Linked DNA regions of Homo sapiens. The protein of the gene in region 4 purifies or fractionates together with the protein of the main gene of each other region. This does not show direct contact. Each region holds a gene or a part of one and is shown on either strand. Other genes may lie near its edges.

Region 1 (3,500 bases), on a different chromosome or scaffold from region 4:
CTTTGTGAGGCCAAGGTGGGCGGATCATGAGGTCAGGAGTTCAAGACCAGTCTAGCCAACATGGTCTCTAATAAAAATACAAAAATTAGCTGGGCATGATAGCGGGTGCCTGTAATCCCAGCTACTCAGGTGGCTGAGGCAGGAGAATCGCTTGAGCCTCGGAGGCAGAAGTTGTAGTGAACTGAGACCAGACCACCACACTCCAGCCTAGGCAACAGAGCAAGACTCCGTATCAAAAACAAAAACAAAAACAAAAAAAGGCAGGGCCCAGTGGCTCACACCTGTAATCCCTGCACTTTGGGAGGCCGAGGCGGGAGGATCCATGAGGTCAGAGGTTCAAGACCAGCCTTCCCAATACAGTGAAGCCCCATCTCTACTAAAAACATAAAAATTAGCTGGGCGTGGTAGCATGCACCTGTAGTTCCAGCTACTCAGGAGACTGAGGCAGAAGAATCGCTTGAACCTGGGAGGAAGAGGTTGCAGTGAGCCGAGATGGCACCACTGCACTCCAGCCTGGGCAACAGAGCAAGATTCCATCTCAAAAAAAAAAAAAAAAAATAGGGCATCACTTTTCCGACTGTCAGCCAGTGACCAGTAGTAAGAAACACTAACATTAAACCATGAGTCAGCTTGCTAATGTCAGCATCATGATAAACATAAATAAGTTTGTTTTGCAATGATGACAAGGTTAGATAGCATGATCTTTTACCAAAAACTAAATTTTAGGTGGAGATGAGAAGGCAGATGACAGGAAAACACTAAGGGGTGATAACCTAAGTCACCGCTCCTAAAACAGACAGGAGACAGTAGGTCAGCTGTAATAAACTGCTCCACAATGGATTACACAGACACTGGAGAAGATTGTGATCTTCTCTAGAAATCTTAAATATTTTTTTCAAAAACATGCATACTTGGGAGTAGGTAAGATAGGGAAGAACCTCCAAGTCTCCTGGTGCCCAGTCTCCCAAGAAGCTGGAGAAAGCACAAGCAGCATCACTGATGAAGGCTGACTCCCAGATATCACTCCATAATTTTGGAATTCAAAAACTGCCTCTTGGCCAGGCGTGGTAGCTCACGCCTGTAATCCCAGCACTTTGGGAGGCCAAGGCGGGTGGATCACTTGAGGTCAGGAGTTCGAGACCAGCTTGACCAACATGGAGAAACCCCATCTCTACTAAAAATACAAAATTAGCCACGAGTGGTGGTGCATGCCTGTAATCCCAGCTACTTCGGAGGCTGAGGCAGGAGAACTGCTTGAACCTGGGAAGCAGAGGTTGCAGTGAACTGAGATCGCGCCATTGCACTCCAGCCTGGGCAACAAGAGCGAGACTCCCTCTCAAAAAAATACATAAACTGCTTCTTGTTGGTCACCCAGATATTCTCTAGTCAACATTTCAGTATGTTCAAATCAAAGAATCAGGAAAACAAATGATCCGGCATTTGACTGCTTCTATGCACCTGTACACTGGACTTTCTGGAAAGGTGAAGAGCTGGCTGGAGCTCATCAGGATCCAAGTATTAAGGAGCTGACAAGGGTCACTGTGCCTTCTCTTCTGTGCTTACCTCAGACAACAGCCCCTAACAGACCAGTCTGAGATGCTCCAGGTTCACCCACACAGTGGCCCTGTACTGTCTGCTCAAGCTGAGCAATCAATCACCAACCTGAGACAGATTCAGGGATTCACTCGAGGGGTCAAATGGGAAATAGGCAGCTGACAACTCTCCCAATACCTAAACCCATCAAAGCAATTACCTGCACCTTAAGCAGAATCCAAATTGGCTATGGACTCAGATGTCTGATAACCTAAAAACTAAATGGTGGCCGGGCGTGGTGGCTCACGCCTGTAATCCCAGCACTTTGGGAGGCTGAGGTGGGCGGATCACGGGGTCAGGAGATCGAGACCACCCTGGCTAACACAGTGAAACCCCGTCTCTACTAAAAATACAAAAAATTAGCCGGGCGTGGTGGCGGGCGCCTATAGTCCCAGGTACCCGGGAGGCTGAGGCAGGACAATGGCATGAACCCGGGAGGTAGAGCTTGCAGTGAGCAGAGACTGTGTGCCACTGCACTCCAGCCTGGGTGACAGGGCAACACTCCGTCTCAAAAAAAAAAAAAGAACACTAAATGGTAGGCCCAGCACGGTGGCTCACGCCTGTAATCCCAACACTTTGGGAGTCTGAGACCAGCCTGGCCAGTATGGTGAAACCCCATCTCTACTAAAAATACAAAAAATTAGCCAGGCGTGGTGGCGGGCACCACTGGTTGCTATTTACCCAAAGAGATAGAGGAAAAGAAACTCTAGACGTCTAATTGCTTACTCTGAAAAGGGTGGTGGGAAACACTAAAAGAACTATCATATGCTAAGGTTAATTCGCCTTACGAGGTGAATCCCAGCTACAAGGGAGGCTGAGGCAGGAGAATCGCTTGAACCTGGGAGGCGGAGGTTGCAGTGAGCCAAGATCACGCCACTGCACTCCAGCCTGGGCGACAGAGCAAGACTGGCTCAAACAGAAAACAACAACTATAAATGGTAAACTTCACAACAGAGAACAAGCCAACCAAGAGCTGCCAAGTTCTTTAAAAGGTGGCTTTCTGTTCTACTGCCCTCTCCCTTCAAAGTGTTTCTCAACTTTAGCCTGTTTCTTAAAAGAGCAGATCTAAATGATAAAAAAAAGACATTCGATTCCAAAAATTAAGTCCTAATCACAACCTACCACTTACTAGAAAGTCACCCAATCTCTCTCTATCTCTGAGTAGCGTTATGAAACATAAACCCTAAAAGCCCCTGAGCACAGACAGCACCAGCACAAAGACTTGTGTCCTAACAGTATGGCAAAACTGGACAATATCAGCACACGTCATCTCCACTGAGGAGGCTGTCCCTCCACACACGGACTGCCTGGTGCTGTTACCAGCTCTCCCGGCCCAGCAGCACTGACACAGGCCGGTGGTCACTGAGCCTGAGAAAAGCCCATGATGTCAGTCAGAACTGTCACAGCAGACAGGTGCCCTTGTGCTGCACTAGGCACGTGCGCTAAACACCTCCAAAGAGCCGCAGAGGGGCCGGGCGCGGTGGCTCACGCCTGTAATCCTAGCACTTTGGGAGGCTGAGGTGGGTGGATCACCTGAGGTCAGGAGTTTGAGATCAGCCTGACCAACAAGGAGAAACCCCATCTCTACTAAAAATACAAAATTACCCAGGCGTGGTGGTGCATGCCTGTAATCCCAACTACTCAGGAGGCTGAGGCAGGAGAATCACTTGAACTCGGGAGGCGGAGGTTGCAGTGAGCTGAGATCGTGCCATTGCACTCCAACCTGGGCAACAAGAGCGAAACTCCATCTCAAAAAACACAGCCGCAGAGGAGCTCGTCGGGTCTCCATTGCATGGATGATGAAAGTGAAGCACAGCTACCAAACCACTAAGTAAGCAATGGAGTCAGGATCCAAGGACCCTTGTGGTCTGGCTCCAAAGACCTGCACTTCATCCTCACAAATCTGA
Region 2 (3,021 bases), on a different chromosome or scaffold from region 4:
TCCTTTCTTCATTCAGTCCTTATCCCCAATATTCTCCACCTCCATCAATTCCATATCCCAAAGTATGAAATACCTGCAGTCCTGAGATCCCAGTCTGCCTCTGCTCCCCCGAGGTATCCAATCACAAATCTGAAAGATTATCCAGTCCCACCTCATGCCTTCAGGAAGACCCGTTCCTGACCCACACAAACAGATGAGACTCATCTTGGCTTTAAAACCTGCTCATAGATGTTCAGCATCCTCTCGATAACTGTGTTTCATCTTATTTCTGCAGTGCCAGCCCAATGCAGGGCAACGGGGCTTTGCTTTGGGCCTCCCTGCAGGTGGCACTAGGGAAGGTAGAGAAGGGAAGACAATGTTTGCCGCTTCCGTGGTCACTCTACTGCTGTTGCCTTTGCTTCTGGAGCTGCTTCTACCAGCACTGCCTCTCTCCCTCCCACATCACTGCCAGGGTCTGAGTGAGACCTACCCCCAAGGACTCATCCAGGCAGCCACACCGGTGGTTTGAAATAATCTTTATTTTGTAAACATCTGTGTTTAAAATAGATGAACCCTGCTCACAATTCATATATGGACCCGAGACACAGTACACGAAGTTCACCCGTCACAGGGAGATAGTGGAGGCTCAGGAGCAGGTGGCGTGCCTGGGGCTGGATGGAGTCTCAAGACAGCAGGTGCAGAGGTGGTGACGAGTAAACAGGCCAGCAGAGCCTGGTTAACAGTCTGGGCCTCAAGACATGCCCCAGGCCACCAAAAGTTTAGGGTGAGCGTAGCTGCACCCTAAAATCCCAATTCTCCTTCTGCTCCCATACCTTTTCCCAGTCATGGCCCTTGTGGATAGGGCCTATCAGTCTATAGAATCCTGATTCCATGTTTTCCCTTCCAGAACCCCTAGGGTACAGTACAAATATAGTCCTTCTTTCCTGAGGGGGCTAGGAGAGAAAGACAATGAATGGCACCCTGCCTGATCTTCAGGGAAAGCTGAAATACTGGTCCACAGATTGGAGCCACTGCCCAATATAACTTCTCAAGTCCCTGGCTGAAGACAGACTTGAGGGCTGGCATCACCTACTTCCCTAGCCCCAGTGTGATGTGGCATAGGTCTTGATACCCAAGGAGTCCCATCTTCAAGGAAGCAACTCCAGCCTAGTCACAGCTTCATCCTAGAGTTAGCTGTCTCCTTTTCTCATTAGCCAGTGATTTACAACTTCCTGCTCTCCTTTGCTTTCCACCATCTAAGCTATACCCTGTCCCTAAGTCCTGAGCCACCCTCTCCTGCTGTTTTCCTGGTTTGGTAAGTCAGGAGGAAAGGTTTGATGGTTCTTTCCCCACTTCTTTTTGGAGGAGTAAGGAAGTGAGGTTCTTATCCTTCACATATGAGTGCCCTGGATTTTGGTTCTTAGTTGATGAATACTCAACACCCAGTTCTTTGTTTTGGCTGCAGCCACGCAGTGCAGCTAATGTGTGGCTTAAGAATGACCCTCTTCCTAGGCCTCGCCCACCTTGGGACGGTGGGCAGGAACCCCAGTAGAACTGGTAAATTACTTGTTCCGTCTTTAAAGGGCCTCCTACGAGCTACTCTTGGGCCATATGGGGTTAAAGAAACTTCCTGAACATAGCACTCTGGAGGAAGGAGTCCTCTTCCCTCCACCTGTAGCCACAGTGTGGTTGGCAAACCCTCAAGCCTATCAGGAGGTAGAGGGCAAGATGAGCGCTTTGTCTTAAAGGCCAAAGAGAACAGCACCAAGCGTTTCTACCCAGGGCCTTCCTTCTCTCTTCCCATGAAGTCTTTGCCCTTCTCCCATAAACTTTGGGTCCCAGGAGAACCTTGGTTGCTGAAGGCTAGGCTCAGTCCTCCGCCTGGGAGTCTGAGGAAATGCTCTTCTTACCTAAGAAATGGAAGATGGGGCCTAGGAGGCCCTGCTGTTGCTACATTCCCCTCTGCTGTGCAAACTGCTGTCCCTGGCCAGCTCTCCCTTGCTCTTAACCTGATACATAGGAGCTAGTCCTTCATTTCCAAATGCTCCCCTTTGTGGAGTGCATGGTTGGCCTGACAGTGTCACTGACCCCAGGGCTCTCCTTGCCCCTGGAGTACCCACAGGCCTTGGTCCACATCTTTAAATTTGGGAGCCAGGTGGAGAGAAATTGTGTTCATGCTGCATGGGAGGTAGAGAATGGAGGTGACTTTTTATCCCTGCCACCCCTCATTTTGTTTCCTTCTCTGAAGCACCTGCCTCTGAGCTCAGTTCCCCAAAGAGGCAGGCGGGCAGCCAAGCAAGGGCAAAGCTCTGGTCGGGGAATGGGTAGAGGTAGGGCAGCCCCAGGCTCGAGGACTCCCTGGTTGCCGTTTCCCTCCTACCTCGATGCTCCACTTTCGCAGGTCACTGGGGAGGCAGGCCCATGGCACATGAGGGACAGTGGGGGTGGGGGAAGAGGAAGAAGCACCCTGTAGCCTTTGGCCCACCCACGAGGCAGGGTGGAGGGTTCTTCCTGGATCCAAGGGTGGAACCTCCCCACGAGCCTGGGTCCATCCCCTTGGATAGCTTAGGAAGGAAGGAAAGAGCGAGCTGCACACAGCAGGACACACGGGGGACGGGGTTTGAGGAGCTTTGATACGAAACGCACCGGAGGGGAGGGGTCAGAGAAAGAGAAGTGGGGGAAGAGAGAAAAAGCAGAGAAGAGACACGATGCACGGAGAAAGGAGCAGCTGAAAGTGGCCTGGACTCCAGCCCTGGCTGTTGTCTGGTGGGTGCGGGATGGTGAGACAGTGCTTGCGGCACATCGTGGGGGTCGTAGCAGGCCTGTGGCTGGGGAAACAGGCTGAAGAAGACCACTCCAGGGTGGACGGGCTGGGGACAGGGGCTGCTTGAGATGACAGCAGAGCCGCTCTCAGGGCCAGGCAGGGGGAGTAGTGGCTACTGATACTCAATAGGGTCATCACACGAGAGGACAGCAGCAGGGCAAAGCCCCGGCTCCCCTGTCTGCCCACGGGCCTCCTGAGGGAAGAGGGGTGTCGTGTGG
Region 3 (3,985 bases), on a different chromosome or scaffold from region 4:
GTCGTTCCTGGGGGAGTCCCACTGCTTAGGCGGTGATGGAGACTGGCACCCTTGAAAGGATGTTCCAAGCAGTGTGTGTGGATCCAGCGAGGCCCACATTGAGCTCATAGAGCCCAGAGAAGGTCCCAGTTTCCAGCACCGGAGCCAAGCATTACCTGGTCTCTCCAGACAGAGGCTGTGCTGGGTAGGGGCCAGGGAAGAAAGTCCCCCGGGCTCAGGGCCCCTCAGCCTGGCCTGGCCCAGCTCCTCCCCAAATGCTGGACATCCCTGCATCCTGACATGGGACCTGTTCTGGCCTTGCTGTGGGCTCCACCCTGGGCAGGACAGGATCCCTGGTCAGCCTCTCCTGCCTCAGTCTCTCTCCGTGCAGGATGAAGCCCAGGAGAGGGCACTGGGGCATCCTGGCCTTGTGAGGTCAGGTAGGCCCTGAGTCCTCAGATCCCACATTGCTGAATTGTTCCTGGTGAGAGCTGTGTCTGTGAGGGGATCCTGGGAGGGTCCTCAGGAAGCACTTTGCCATTGGGCAGACTCAACCCCACCTGGGCATGGATAGTCACTGAAGCCGAAGTCTCCCCCCAACCCCAGGGCCAAGCAGCAGCAGCTGCAGGAAGCACAAGTGACAAACACTGCAGGAAACCACAAGTACAATCCGGAACCTTCTACCTATGAATGTCCCTGGATTGGAAGGGCCCTGCCCGGATTCGGATGGCTGGGTCGGTCACCTGGTTGTGTAGAAAGCCCCTGTGCTGGTCCATCTTGACCGAGGTGCCATTGTCCAGGCGCTCCACTTCGTAGCACAGGTAGGTCTTATGCCTTCCAATGCCATTGTTAAAGTTGGAAGTGAATATGTGTGGATCCATCAAGTGTCTGTGGACAGCCAGGGAAAAGACCAGAGGAGGAAGAGCCCTCCTGGACTGCCCTGCCTCCTCCTCCCTCCCCACACTTCCTCCCTTGCACCCCACCCTCCTTCCCCCTGCTCCGCACATCCCTTAGCACACTTCCAAACCTCCCCCTCTGACCCCTTCTATGGCTCACTGGGAGATCACTGCAGCCCTGGGGCCTGTCTAAGCCTTGTCAGGGTCTCCCCAGGGTCAGCTCAGTGTGCTCAGGCCCTCCGAGGAGGACCCTGCTCCTCTCCCTGGGGTAGAGCTGGGTCTTATTCTGTGGCCTCACCATGCACCCCTGTCCTGGCTCTGCTCACCCACAGCCCCTGCTGGAGATGGACCCTCTGGGGCTTCCTCCTGCCTGCAGGGTTAACTCCTACCACACCGAGCATCGGGACAGGGACACTCCTGAGGGGGATGACTGGGGAGAGGAACCTGCCAGGGACTTCTTTTCGGGTAATTCATAGGATTTTCCACATCCCTTAGGGTGCCCTGAGGTCTCCCAAATGTGCTTCTCAGGCAATTGAGATGGGGCAGCTCAGGACTCCTGGGCTGGAAACACCAGCCCCACCTTGAAGACCTCTCCCAGCCCCTCTCTATGCATCCTGACATAATCAGAATTAGAAAAATCTCTGTTGGGAGGCAGCACAAAAGAAAGAAAGAAAGAAGGAAAGAGAAAGAAGGAAGGAAAGAAAGAAAGAAAGAAGGAAAGAGAAAGAAGGAAGGAAAGAAAGAAAGAAAGAAAGAAAGAAAGAGAAAGAGAGATGGAGGAAGGAAGGAAGGGAGGGAGGGAGGAAGGAAGGAAAAGAAAAAGAAGGAAAGAAAGAAAGAAAAAAGAAAGGAAGGAAAAGAAAGAAAGAAGGAAAGAAGAAAGAAAGAAAAGAAAGAAAAAAGAAAGGAAGGGAGGGAGAAAGGGAGAAAGAGAGGAAGGAAGGAAGAAAGGAAGGAAAGGAAAGAAGAAAGAGAGGAAGGAAGGAGGGAGGAAGGAAGTAAAAGAAAGAAAGAAGGAAAGAATGAAAGAAAAAGAAAGAAAGAAGGAAAGAAAGAAAGAGAAAGGAAGGAAGGGAGGAAGAGAGAAAGGGAAATATTGGAAGAAAGGAAGGAAGCACAGAAGGGAAGGAAGGAGGGAGGGAAGAGAGAGAAAGAAGAAAAAGAAATAAAGAAGGAAAGAGAGAGAGAGAAAGAAAGAAGAAAGAAAGAGAGAGAGAATTGAAGGAAGGAAGGAAGGAAGGAGGAAGGAAGGAAGGAAAGAAGGAAGGAAGGTTCAAAATGTTCCCCACCATTTCGAGTAGACCTGGGCATGAATCTGGGCTCTACCACTCACTTGCTCTGTGTTCTCAAAAAAAGGAAACAAGGCTTCCTCATAGCCAAGCAGTCCTACAAGCAACCCCCTTTTCTTAATATTAGGGAGAACGAGATGACACTGAACATAAAAAGGGCTTAGGCCAAGTCCAGATACATGGAACATTTGCAAGAAATAGTAGATGCTCATTTAAAGACAAGTGAGGAGAATCCCCTCTCTGACCGTCTTCACTGGCTGGGGCACAGCACCATTATCTATTGGGATTTTCAGGCTCCCTGTGCACCTGCCCCGGGAGGTGGAAGGAGACCTGGAATTGGTACCATCGGAGGAGAGACCAGCGCTGGGACCAAAACTGGGAACCTAGAGCAAGAGGCCAGGTCCAGAGAGAGGGTCAGGAGGAAAAGAGAGGCCCCAGGGGTTTGAGGGTGAGAGGTGAGTGCTCATCAGAAAAGCTCAAAGAGGAGGCTGAGGCGCAGAGGTGCTCGGAGGGGCTTCCCATACCTGGGCCCGGATGCTGGGCTGGCTTCCATGTGCTTGTCCCTTCTCGGTTCCTGGTCTGTGTCCTCCCGCTCTTGCGACTTGCTCAAGGCGTGGTGTTAAGATCTTCACCAACATTCTCTTAGGATTCAGGAGCCTTAATATATCATCAGAGCAACCTGGAAGCTGCTGAGTCAGCGATACCCTGCCCCACCCCTTCTCCAGCTCAGGCCGAGTGTGCCACCCTCATTAGCGTCAGAACAAGGAAGTTCTCTGCCATGCCTCTGGGCAAGCTTTGGTTTTGATGTGCCCACTCTGACCACTGAACCACCAGACACTGTGGAGTGACAATGGGGATGTAGAGCTGGCCACACTTTGCTCCCTGTGGGCCACAGGAATCTGGAAGGCAGGAGACCAGGGGGCAGGTGAGAAGACAGGTGTCCACACCCTGGAGAAAGACCCTGAATAACACTCAGCGGTCCAGAGAGCAGGCTCCAGGACAGCCACCCCTGTGTCCTCCCCTGTGGCCAGTGCAGGATGTGCCTGGTCCAGGCTCCCTGGCACCTGCTGCATCCTGTGCTCTCTGTTAGGGTCCTGCATCTTCTTCCCTGGCTGTGAAGATGGGAGACCAGCAGGTCCTGCATCCTCCTATGCATCAGTGTATCTAATAATTGTAAACTAGAGGGAGGAGTGTTTTCATCCCCATTACCCAGAGGAGATGCTAAAGGCTCTGAAAGGTACCTAGAGATCCAGGCCCTCCCAGGAAACAGAGTCCCCAGCAGGGACACACCCCCACCCCCCTGTCAGAAGGGCCACCCTGTGCCCTTTCTCCCACCTCTGGGCCCTGCAGAAATGTGAGGGACACTGTGCTCCTGCCCCAAGTGAGCCCCTGAGTCCTGGCGGCAGGTCTGGCGCCGTCCTTTCCCAGGTCCACCTGCTACACCCAGCACAGCTGCCCCTGGAAGGTGCTGGCCCTGTGGGCCCAGGGGCTGTCCCCTGTCCTGCCTGCTCCCCTGTTCTGGCTCTTACTAGACCCCCCTGTCTTTGGCCAGCAATCCTCCCACCTCAGCACAGTGTCCCTGCCATTTTGGTGGGCGCCACAGACTAGAAGAGGCCCTGTTCTCTGCCGTGAGGACCCCTCCCATTCTGTCTCCAGATGTTGGACTCTTCTAGTCAAGAAGATGTCCCCTGGGGGCAGTCAACTGCCATTTGAGTCTCAGGTGGTTCTGGTGTGAGCTCATCTTGGTGTGTTGTGTGAGTCTGACCAGAGGCCACCCTTCCCAGTTCACACCAGAGGCATGCACAGCTGGACGCCCCGCAG
Region 4 (2,425 bases):
CCCACAGCCTCTCCATCTGAACATGACCCAAACGAAACTCGTGACCCTAATTCCATGTCTGCGCATTTCTAGACTGTTGTCCCCCCCCCCCCCCGCCCCGACTACTCAGTCCTCCGTCTTCCGGTCCAGGGCCCCTTGCCAAGCACCGGGTCCACCTCTCCGTCCCCACCCCGGTTGCCTTAGAAGTCCGTCCTGTCGCAACACTGCAGTCATGGTCTTGAGGCCCACCCGCCCCAACGAACACCATCATGCTGAGGACTTTCCCGGGCAGGCCCTGACTTGCTCAGAACCAGCGGGGGTGTCCCCTTCCCACCCAGGGCCACTCCCCTGCACTGTCACCCGGAGAGACTGCTCCTCTGTGCCATCCCTGGCTCCCACCCAACCCCAGACCCCCACCACCTCTCCATCCCTCCAGCTGTGGAGGTCTCACAACCCCCCAACCCATCTCACCGCCCCCCCACCCCCACCCCAAGGCAAAGTGACTGAAGCGGGCAGATGGCTTCCTTGAAACATTTTATTGACAGAATTAATGAAGGCCCAAGACTTTGGGGCCTGGGTTGTGGGGGGAGGGTGTTTAAGGCCGGGGGTTCAGGCCGGGGGATTTGGGGCCGGGTGGGTGGACGAGTGGACCTGTCAGGTCCCAGGGGCCGGGTGTCAGAAGCTAGTCCTCGCCAGGGGCCACTTGAGAGATGGTGGTCGTGTTGAAAAGGGTGCTCAGTAGCCTGTCGTTGTGAACCACCATGTCCAGCAGCAGGGGAGTGATGTTCCGCTCTCCGCTGTTCTGGGCCTCGTTGCCCGCCAGCTCCGGGACCTTGGCCGTCAGGTACTCAATAACCGCAGCGAGGTAGACCGGCGCCGTGCGACTCAGGCGCTGAGCGTAGTGGCCCTCCCGTAGACTGCGCTCCACCTGGCTCACTGAAAACGAAAGCTCCGCTCGGACGGTGCGAGAGCAGGTCCGCCCCCGGCCGCCAGCACCGGAGGACCCTCGGCGTCTCCTCCTCCTCGGCATGCTGGGCGTTGAGTGTGCTATCTCGGCTTGGCCCAGCTAGGCAAGATGGCTCTCAAGAGGACAGTTACCGCGTCCAGTACTGTGTATCCTAGCGACCAGGGCCCAGCCCCTCATTGGCTAGGGAGCCGAGACCAATGGGCACGCACATCCGGCGACGGGCACGCATGTGGTGACGGCCCCTCACAAGGGACACACGTCCGTCAGGTGACCTCATCACTTTCCCATTGGCCTCGAGGGAGCAGGCCTGGGCCTAGAAGTGGCTGGAGGGCCGTGGGGGTGGGGTGGGGCGGGGCAGGGGGAATCGCGCTGGTGACCCTCTCTTTGCCAGTGGGAACTTTCCCTTTCTACTGGATGGGAACACCGTGGGAAAGACAAAGGGGTGGGCGAGGGGAGGACGGGTACCACGCCTTCACAATGTTGCACATCCATCACGACCACCTAGTTCCAAAACGTTTTCAACACCCCGAAAAGAAACCGAAACCCCTGTACCTATAAGCAGTCACTTGCCGCACGCCTCCTTCCACACCACCACTACCAGCCCCCACACCCTCCCACACACACCCCCTGCCCCCGCCCATACACACGTTCCCGATAGTCCCTGGCAACCCCTAGTCCATCTGCTTTCTGTCCATAGAGGTTAGCCTGTTCTGGAGATTTCCTATAGATGGAATTATACGACCAAATGTGAGGCCGTGTGTGTCTGGCTGCTTTCACTTAGCGTAATGGTTTCATCAGGGTGCATCCATGTAGAGGCATGAATCACTACTTCCTTCCTTTGAATGACTGAGTACGATTCTGTTGTATGAATAGGAGGCCACATTTTGTTTACCCACTCGTCAGTTGATGGACAGGTTATTTCCCCCTTCTGGCTATTGTGAGTGGCACTGCCATGACCATCTCTCTACAGGTTTTTCTTTGAATATCTCTTTTCAGTTCTTTTGGGTCTATTTCTAGCAGTCAAACTGCTGGCTCGTGTGGTAATTCTGTTTAACTTATTGAGGAACCACCAAACTGATTTCCACAGCAGCTGTAATCTTTCGCATTCCCAACAGTAGTGCATGAGAGTCCCAATTTCTTCACAGCCTCATCAAAACCTGTTTTCTGTTTGCCTCATTTTGTTTTGTTTACAGTAGCCATCCTACTGGGTGTCAAGTGCTATCTCATGGTGGTTTTCATTCGTATTTCCCAAATGGCTAATGATGTTGCTGTGGTTTGAGTGCATCCCCCAAATTGTGTGTCTTGGAAACTTAATCCCCAAATTCACATGTTGATTGGAGGCGCAGCCTCTGAGACGGTAATTAGGATTAGATAAGGTCATCGGGGTGAGACCCCCAGGATGCGACTGGTGGCTTTATAAGAATAGGAAGAGAGGCCTGAAACGACATACACGCTCTTGCCCTCTCGCCGTGTGATACC
Region 5 (2,632 bases), on a different chromosome or scaffold from region 4:
ACTTGGCTCTATGGACAAAAGGATTTAAATAAGCAAAGTCTGAGGGCTCTGTCCACCCAGAGACCCCCGCAGTGAGAGGTGGCCTGCAGCCGTCTGTTCCGGAGCCCAGGGCAGGCAGAGGGCATTTCACCCAAGGCCTGGCCAGGCTGCGCCCTGTCCTCCCACCCATCCCTGGCCTCTCAGAGAGATCACTGTATCCCATGGGATGGGCAGCCTTCTAACAGGGTGCAGCAGTCATAAACCAAACGCAGGTGTCGGCAGTTTAAGAAAATGTCTGCGTCCTGGCACCGCCCATGAATCAGCGCGAATAGGGTTTAGGTGAGAAAAGCCTGATAATGGGACCCAAGCGCAGGCACGGTCTTCGGCCGGCTGCGTGACCCCAGGCCAGTCACAGCACCTCCCTGAGCCTCCGCATCTTTGTCTGTAAAGTGGGGACCCCAGTACCCCTCCCAGGGCTGTGGTGCGGGTTAATGAGGAAATGCAAGGAAATGACCCGACACACTAGACACGCCAAAAATGGCAGCAGCAACCGCTGCGTCCCCGCCGTGCTGTGAGCACACGCCCAGGCTCACACTTGCTCCCAGCCTTGGCTCAGCCTACAGAGCCGGCTTCAAGGGCCATGCGTGTCCGAGGGTGTCAGGGCAGGGGCTGGGGATGGGGGTGGCCGGGGCCGACCTCAGAGGGCGCCACTCACCAGTAGGTAGATGCCGCTCGCAATGGCCAGGCAGGCGGTCCCAAGGATGGTGGCCAGCAGGAAGCCGGCGGGCACCGAGAGCCTGGGGGACAGCGGGTGAGAGGCAGGGACACAGAAGGGCACTCAGAAAGGGGAACGGAGCCCCAGGTCTGGGGGCCAAGGCCACAAAGTCTCAGGACAAGGCAGACTGCAGACCCAGGGGACGTGCGCGGACCGGGGCTTGTTTCGGTCCTGGGTGTTCTCAGCCTTGATGTGGACACTAGCGGCTCTGGTGCACTTGCTCGGAGGAAGCAGCCACGTGTGGGTGTCCTGGCCTCAGCCGGCAGTAACCAGCAGACACACAGCACGGAACCCTCCACCCTACCAGGAAGCCCAGGCAAGACCCCCCAGCAGTGCATGCTGACCCCAGACCCTGGCGACGGATCGGAGCTCCTCGGATTTGGAGTGGATCCTTACAAATCCTGCACACTAGACAGCAGACACAGGCCCTGCCAGAGCCAGGGACCCGAATTTTTGTTTGGAAAAACACTGAGGTAAGTGGGGGTGGCTCCTGTCCAGGCAGCCCGGCCGGTGGGACAGTGGGGAGGGTCGGCTCCAAGCCCTCCTGAGCCCTAGAGGGGGTGCGGGACGGGGACTCACAGGAGATGCAGGACGGCCCGAACATAGTAATTCCTGGTAAAGGGCCCGAACAGCTTCACCACGGCGGTCATGTACTTCTGTCCCCTGGGGGAGGGAGGAAGGCGAGACGGCGCGGCTGGGCCTCTCCCACTCGGGACTCCTTTGCTGCCCTGCTGACCACCCCAGGGCACCCAGGCCTCTTTCCTCCCACAAAACACACCGGGCAGGCACCGGCCTTGGTTTACCCACAAGCACCAAAGGGTTGGTTCCGGAGCCTCCAAGTGAGAAACCAAGCTCCACCCAACCCTGTGAGCCCTGCCTGGGCCCCGCAGCCCCCGGAGAGACCCCAGAGCAGGAGGAGACTCACCAGCGCTCCATGGTGGAGCCCTTCTTCCTCTTCCCCCGGGGGTACTCCAGCAGGCACACAAACACGCCCGCCACACTGAAGCCATGTGGTTAAGGAACAGCCCAGCTCAGCCTGAGGGGCCACAGGGAACTCCCTTTACTGAAGACAACACAGAGAGGGGCCCGAGCACGGTGGCTCATGCCTGGAATCCCAGCATTTTGGGAGGCTGAGGCGGGAGGATCACTGGAGCCCAGGAGTTTGAGACCAGCCTGGGCAACATAGTGAGACCCTCATCTCTACAAAAAATTTAAAAGCCAGGTGCAGTGGTGTGTGCCTGTGGTCCCAGCTACTCCAGAGGCTGAGGTAAGAGGGTGGCCTGAGCCCAGGTGGAGGCTGCCATGAGTCACAGCTGCACCACTGCACTGCAGCCTGGGGGACAGAGCGAGACCCTGTCTCAAAAAAGGTCGGGGGCAGCCACTGCCTGAGGTCACAGAGCCAGGAGGCAGCCACGGGAGGTTCCAACAGGTCTGGCACTCGGGGCTGCCCACGCCCTCCCTCCCACCACCCTGCCCAGTGCTCCTTGTCGCAAGGTCCGGCTGGGCGGCAGGGCTGAGATGGGGCAGAGGAGGTAGAGGGGCCGGTCAAGGGGGATGACTGACAGGAGCGGGCAGAGGGGATCCCAGCAGTCCAACAGGGAGGCCTCAGTGCTGGCCCTGGCCCTCTGGTGACACCCCCTGCCCACCACTCACCAGGACTTAGACTGGCGGGTCTGCCGCTGATCGCCACATGGTCCTGGCGAGGGGCCTGGCTGCTGGGGCCTGGGCTGCCCAACCCGTGCACAGCCCACCCTGTGTCCCAGCCTGGCTGCGGTGGTGGGGAGCGGAGGCAAACAGCTCACTGTGAAGTGGCTCCCCAGCTCTGCCCTGGGCGTTCCCCGCCCACCCCAGCCTCAGGTGGAAGGATACATGGAGTAG
Region 6 (3,037 bases), on a different chromosome or scaffold from region 4:
CACATTTTGCAATGTAATGTCACAATGTAACGTCGCAGCAGGAAGAATTGAGAGGTGAAGCTGTCTGATCTCATCTCACAATTCAGGCTTAGAGTCAACTGGAAATCCAAACAAGCACTAAAGCACGGTCAGCAGGCACAGTACATGTGTGTGTCTCGTGTGTCTCTCACACACGTACTGTCTTTCAAATGCACAGATGCTTCTGTGATTCATACAAATGCATTTGAAAGTATGACTGGATCTACAATAGTTTTAGCATTTCTGTATTTTCTCAAACAGCAAATACTAAACACATGACCATTTTCTGGGAGTTAGGATTCCCAACTAACCCCTTTGAGTTCCAACATTCTGAGAGTTTTAAACAGCAGTTGGCCAGGGGTCCCAAACAGATGATCCTAGGAAAACAGGAGGCTGGGCAGGGGTGGGAATCTAAGGGCTCCTGTCTTGGTCCCAAAAATCTCAGTTTCAAGCAAGAAAGGGAAAAAAAAAAGGCTCCAAAGTGATCAAAATGTTGCTACATTTTATTTTCAACTTAAAACTTCATTATAAAATTTGCCAAATAAACATGTCAAAAACAAACTTAAAAACAAAGTGTAGCTGATATCCAGAAATTGCAGCACTGTATTGATAAAGGGCTCTTTTCATTACCAGGGAAAGAATTTAATGTCCTTCCTTCCTCCCCAAAAGCTTCCTTGGTGCAATCCAGTACAGAAAACGCCACCACTTTCTGATGCCAGGAGAAAAGCAAAATAAAAAAACTGCTTGCACACATTAGCACTGATAAAACAATGACAATTTCACTAAAAGAATGTTTAAAGACTACCGGATGCTGGAGCAAACCAACTTCATGACTGCATTAACATAAGCTAAGTTACATACACTTCAAATGCAGTATAGAATTAACACTGCATATCTAAATGGCTCATATATAAAATGTGTAATTAAAACCCAAACATACACACTATGTTTATTACATTCCCCTACATTGAAAGTACTGAGAACAATTTAACTCTGAACACAAAAGTTTAGTGAATTTGCTACTGTTCCATTACAGGACAATTAAAAATGAGACTATATCAACTTCACTAGAATTTAATTGCTAAAGCTACCTTATGCACATCTATTAAACTAAAAGAAACGACTTTAACCCCTTCAGTTGTTTTTAAGACAGCACTCCTTTACAGGGAGTCAGGTTTGGTAAATATAAAGGATACATAAAAAATACAGTATAAACTGCATAAGCTTAACAGTAGCAAAAACACTGATGAACTTTTAAAAAGTCAAAAATATATAAAAATATTAGCCTGAAATGGCAAATTTTCAAACACCGATCTGTGTAAAAATGTTTAAATATTGATGTTACTCCAAAAATATATACTTATTCTATTTTTTTTCTATTTGCAACAGTTTATAAAGGCAAACAAACACCTGCAATTGAGGTAGCAAAGCCAAATTCACAAACTTTGGATCAAGAAAAATACCCTTCCTATGTTTTAACAGCATCTTCTATACAATAGTGAATGAATTCTAATTGTTCCAAAATTTTTAATTCACATTACTTTACAAAATTTTATTTAAAATACTGAAAATGTTTTGTTAAAAAGACAGTTAGTCCTGACAATCATCTCACATTCAAAATACTGTACAAAAAAATCTGAAGTCACCATATATTACAAAAAACTAAGCTATGTATTTACATTTTCAATGTAGTTTTAGAAGTTGAGGTTAAGCCAACTGCTACAAATGGTCTCCTTTAAGCAGTGTCTGCTAATAATGTCATCACTTTTCACTTTCAGCATTTAATATAGGCCCTTCTTTTTGCTTTCAAATTATATAATTAGTAAAGGATTTAAAGAAAAACAAATGAAAATTCTATTCTCTTACTGAATAAAACATAAATGTACTTTAAATGGAACAGTGTTTTCATTTAAGAAAAGCCAACTGGCAAAAAAACATCAAAATTTGAAAAGTAATCAGAAACCATAAACATCAATAGCATTCTTCACAGTACATTTATATTAAGACTGTCTTCTGTTTTCAGATTAAGGGTTGAAAATTTCCCATTAAAATGCAAATTCTCACATCCTTACTTGTATTTTTCCTATGTTAACTGTAAGTTAATACAAGTAAACACGGCTATATTAAAAGATCAACTACTCGGCTCCATAGTCCTGACTCAAAAAGAAAAAAAAAAGTACAGACCCTGTCAGTGCAACAAAAGAAAGTTTCGGATTTTTTTCCTTGTTTTTGCAAATGGCAGCTGGAATTGCAGGAGTATTTTGTAGAAAAGCCAGAAGAGCATTAGTAGATGTATGGAAATATACGGTAGGGCACACGCTGACAGTACTTTTCCCAAGCCACGCCGTATTTCTTCTTACAGTGGTACTCGTCACGAGCTTCTCGGTGGACAAGCAACATGGTGAAATAAATTATGTAGAAATAAGGCAGAATGTGGTTAAAACCTGTGGATAATAATAGTACACAGTATTAGATATTTTTATTATCACTACAATGTATTTTTTCCTGCTTTCCCCCAAATTCTCTAAAAATGGAACCACAAGGTACTTCATTTTCTCTAATAATGATGAGAATAATTAAACAAGTCTGTAAAATCCCACTGGAAAGTGGCAGAAGGTCGTATCTAAATTAGAAGCTACTCAAAGACTGATGAATCCATTCTAACAATCCATCACAATCAAAACATCTGTCCTCATAGTTAATACACATCTCTTCATTTCTCGCCCTTCTTCCCCCAGCAAAGAAGAAAAACTGCTGTCTTCCACCACAGGCTGGGCCACCAAACAGGCAGCAGGCACGGGCCAGCTCCTCCACCTCCACCAGCTCCCCTGGATCCCCCTGCTCCCCCAGTTCCCCCAGCTCCCCCAGCTTCCCAAGATCCCCCTGCTCCCCCAGTTCCCCCAGCTCCCCTGGCTCCACCAGTACCTCCAGCTCCCCCTGACACCCCAGCTCCCCAAGCACCTCCAGCTCCCACAGCTCTCCCTGCTCCCCTGCTTTCCCAGCTCCCCACGAGGCCAGA

Evidence for each region.
Region 1: the proteins of H2AB1 (region 4) and LUC7L purify together in Homo sapiens (affinity purification with mass spectrometry; one large-scale study listed by BioGRID and IntAct). This does not show direct contact.
Region 2: the proteins of H2AB1 (region 4) and RAB15 purify together in Homo sapiens (affinity purification with mass spectrometry; one large-scale study listed by BioGRID and IntAct). This does not show direct contact.
Region 3: the proteins of H2AB1 (region 4) and APOBEC3A purify together in Homo sapiens (affinity purification with mass spectrometry; one large-scale study listed by BioGRID and IntAct). This does not show direct contact.
Region 5: the proteins of H2AB1 (region 4) and CYBA purify together in Homo sapiens (affinity purification with mass spectrometry; one large-scale study listed by BioGRID and IntAct). This does not show direct contact.
Region 6: the proteins of H2AB1 (region 4) and LBR purify together in Homo sapiens (affinity purification with mass spectrometry; one large-scale study listed by BioGRID and IntAct). This does not show direct contact.

What each region holds. Positions count from the first base shown.
Region 1 is NC_000016.10:208,950-212,449, forward strand, and holds part of LUC7L (putative RNA-binding protein Luc7-like 1), read right to left. Parts: intron 1-3,500. UniProt on the Homo sapiens protein: May bind to RNA via its Arg/Ser-rich domain.
Region 2 is NC_000014.9:64,945,316-64,948,336, forward strand, and holds the end of RAB15 (ras-related protein Rab-15), read right to left. Parts: 3' UTR 501-3,021; downstream 1-500. UniProt on the Homo sapiens protein: The small GTPases Rab are key regulators of intracellular membrane trafficking, from the formation of transport vesicles to their fusion with membranes.
Region 3 is NC_000022.11:38,956,424-38,960,408, reverse strand, and holds the start of APOBEC3A (DNA dC->dU-editing enzyme APOBEC-3A), read right to left. Parts: upstream 2,801-3,985; 5' UTR 2,718-2,800; coding exon 2,689-2,717; intron 868-2,688; coding exon 723-867; intron 1-722.
Region 4 is NC_000023.11:154,883,634-154,886,058, reverse strand, and holds H2AB1 (histone H2A-Bbd type 1), read right to left. Parts: upstream 1,088-2,425; 5' UTR 1,010-1,087; coding exon 662-1,009; 3' UTR 501-661; downstream 1-500. UniProt on the Homo sapiens protein: Atypical histone H2A which can replace conventional H2A in some nucleosomes and is associated with active transcription and mRNA processing.
Region 5 is NC_000016.10:88,645,422-88,648,053, forward strand, and holds part of CYBA (cytochrome b-245 light chain), read right to left. Parts: coding exon 2,624-2,632; intron 1,755-2,623; coding exon 1,680-1,754; intron 1,418-1,679; coding exon 1,334-1,417; intron 777-1,333; coding exon 695-776; intron 9-694; coding exon of another isoform or gene 1-8. UniProt on the Homo sapiens protein: Subunit of NADPH oxidase complexes that is required for the NADPH oxidase activity that generates, in various cell types, superoxide from molecular oxygen utilizing NADPH as an electron donor.
Region 6 is NC_000001.11:225,401,002-225,404,038, forward strand, and holds the end of LBR (delta(14)-sterol reductase LBR), read right to left. Parts: intron 2,463-3,037; coding exon 2,302-2,462; 3' UTR 501-2,301; downstream 1-500. UniProt on the Homo sapiens protein: Catalyzes the reduction of the C14-unsaturated bond of lanosterol, as part of the metabolic pathway leading to cholesterol biosynthesis.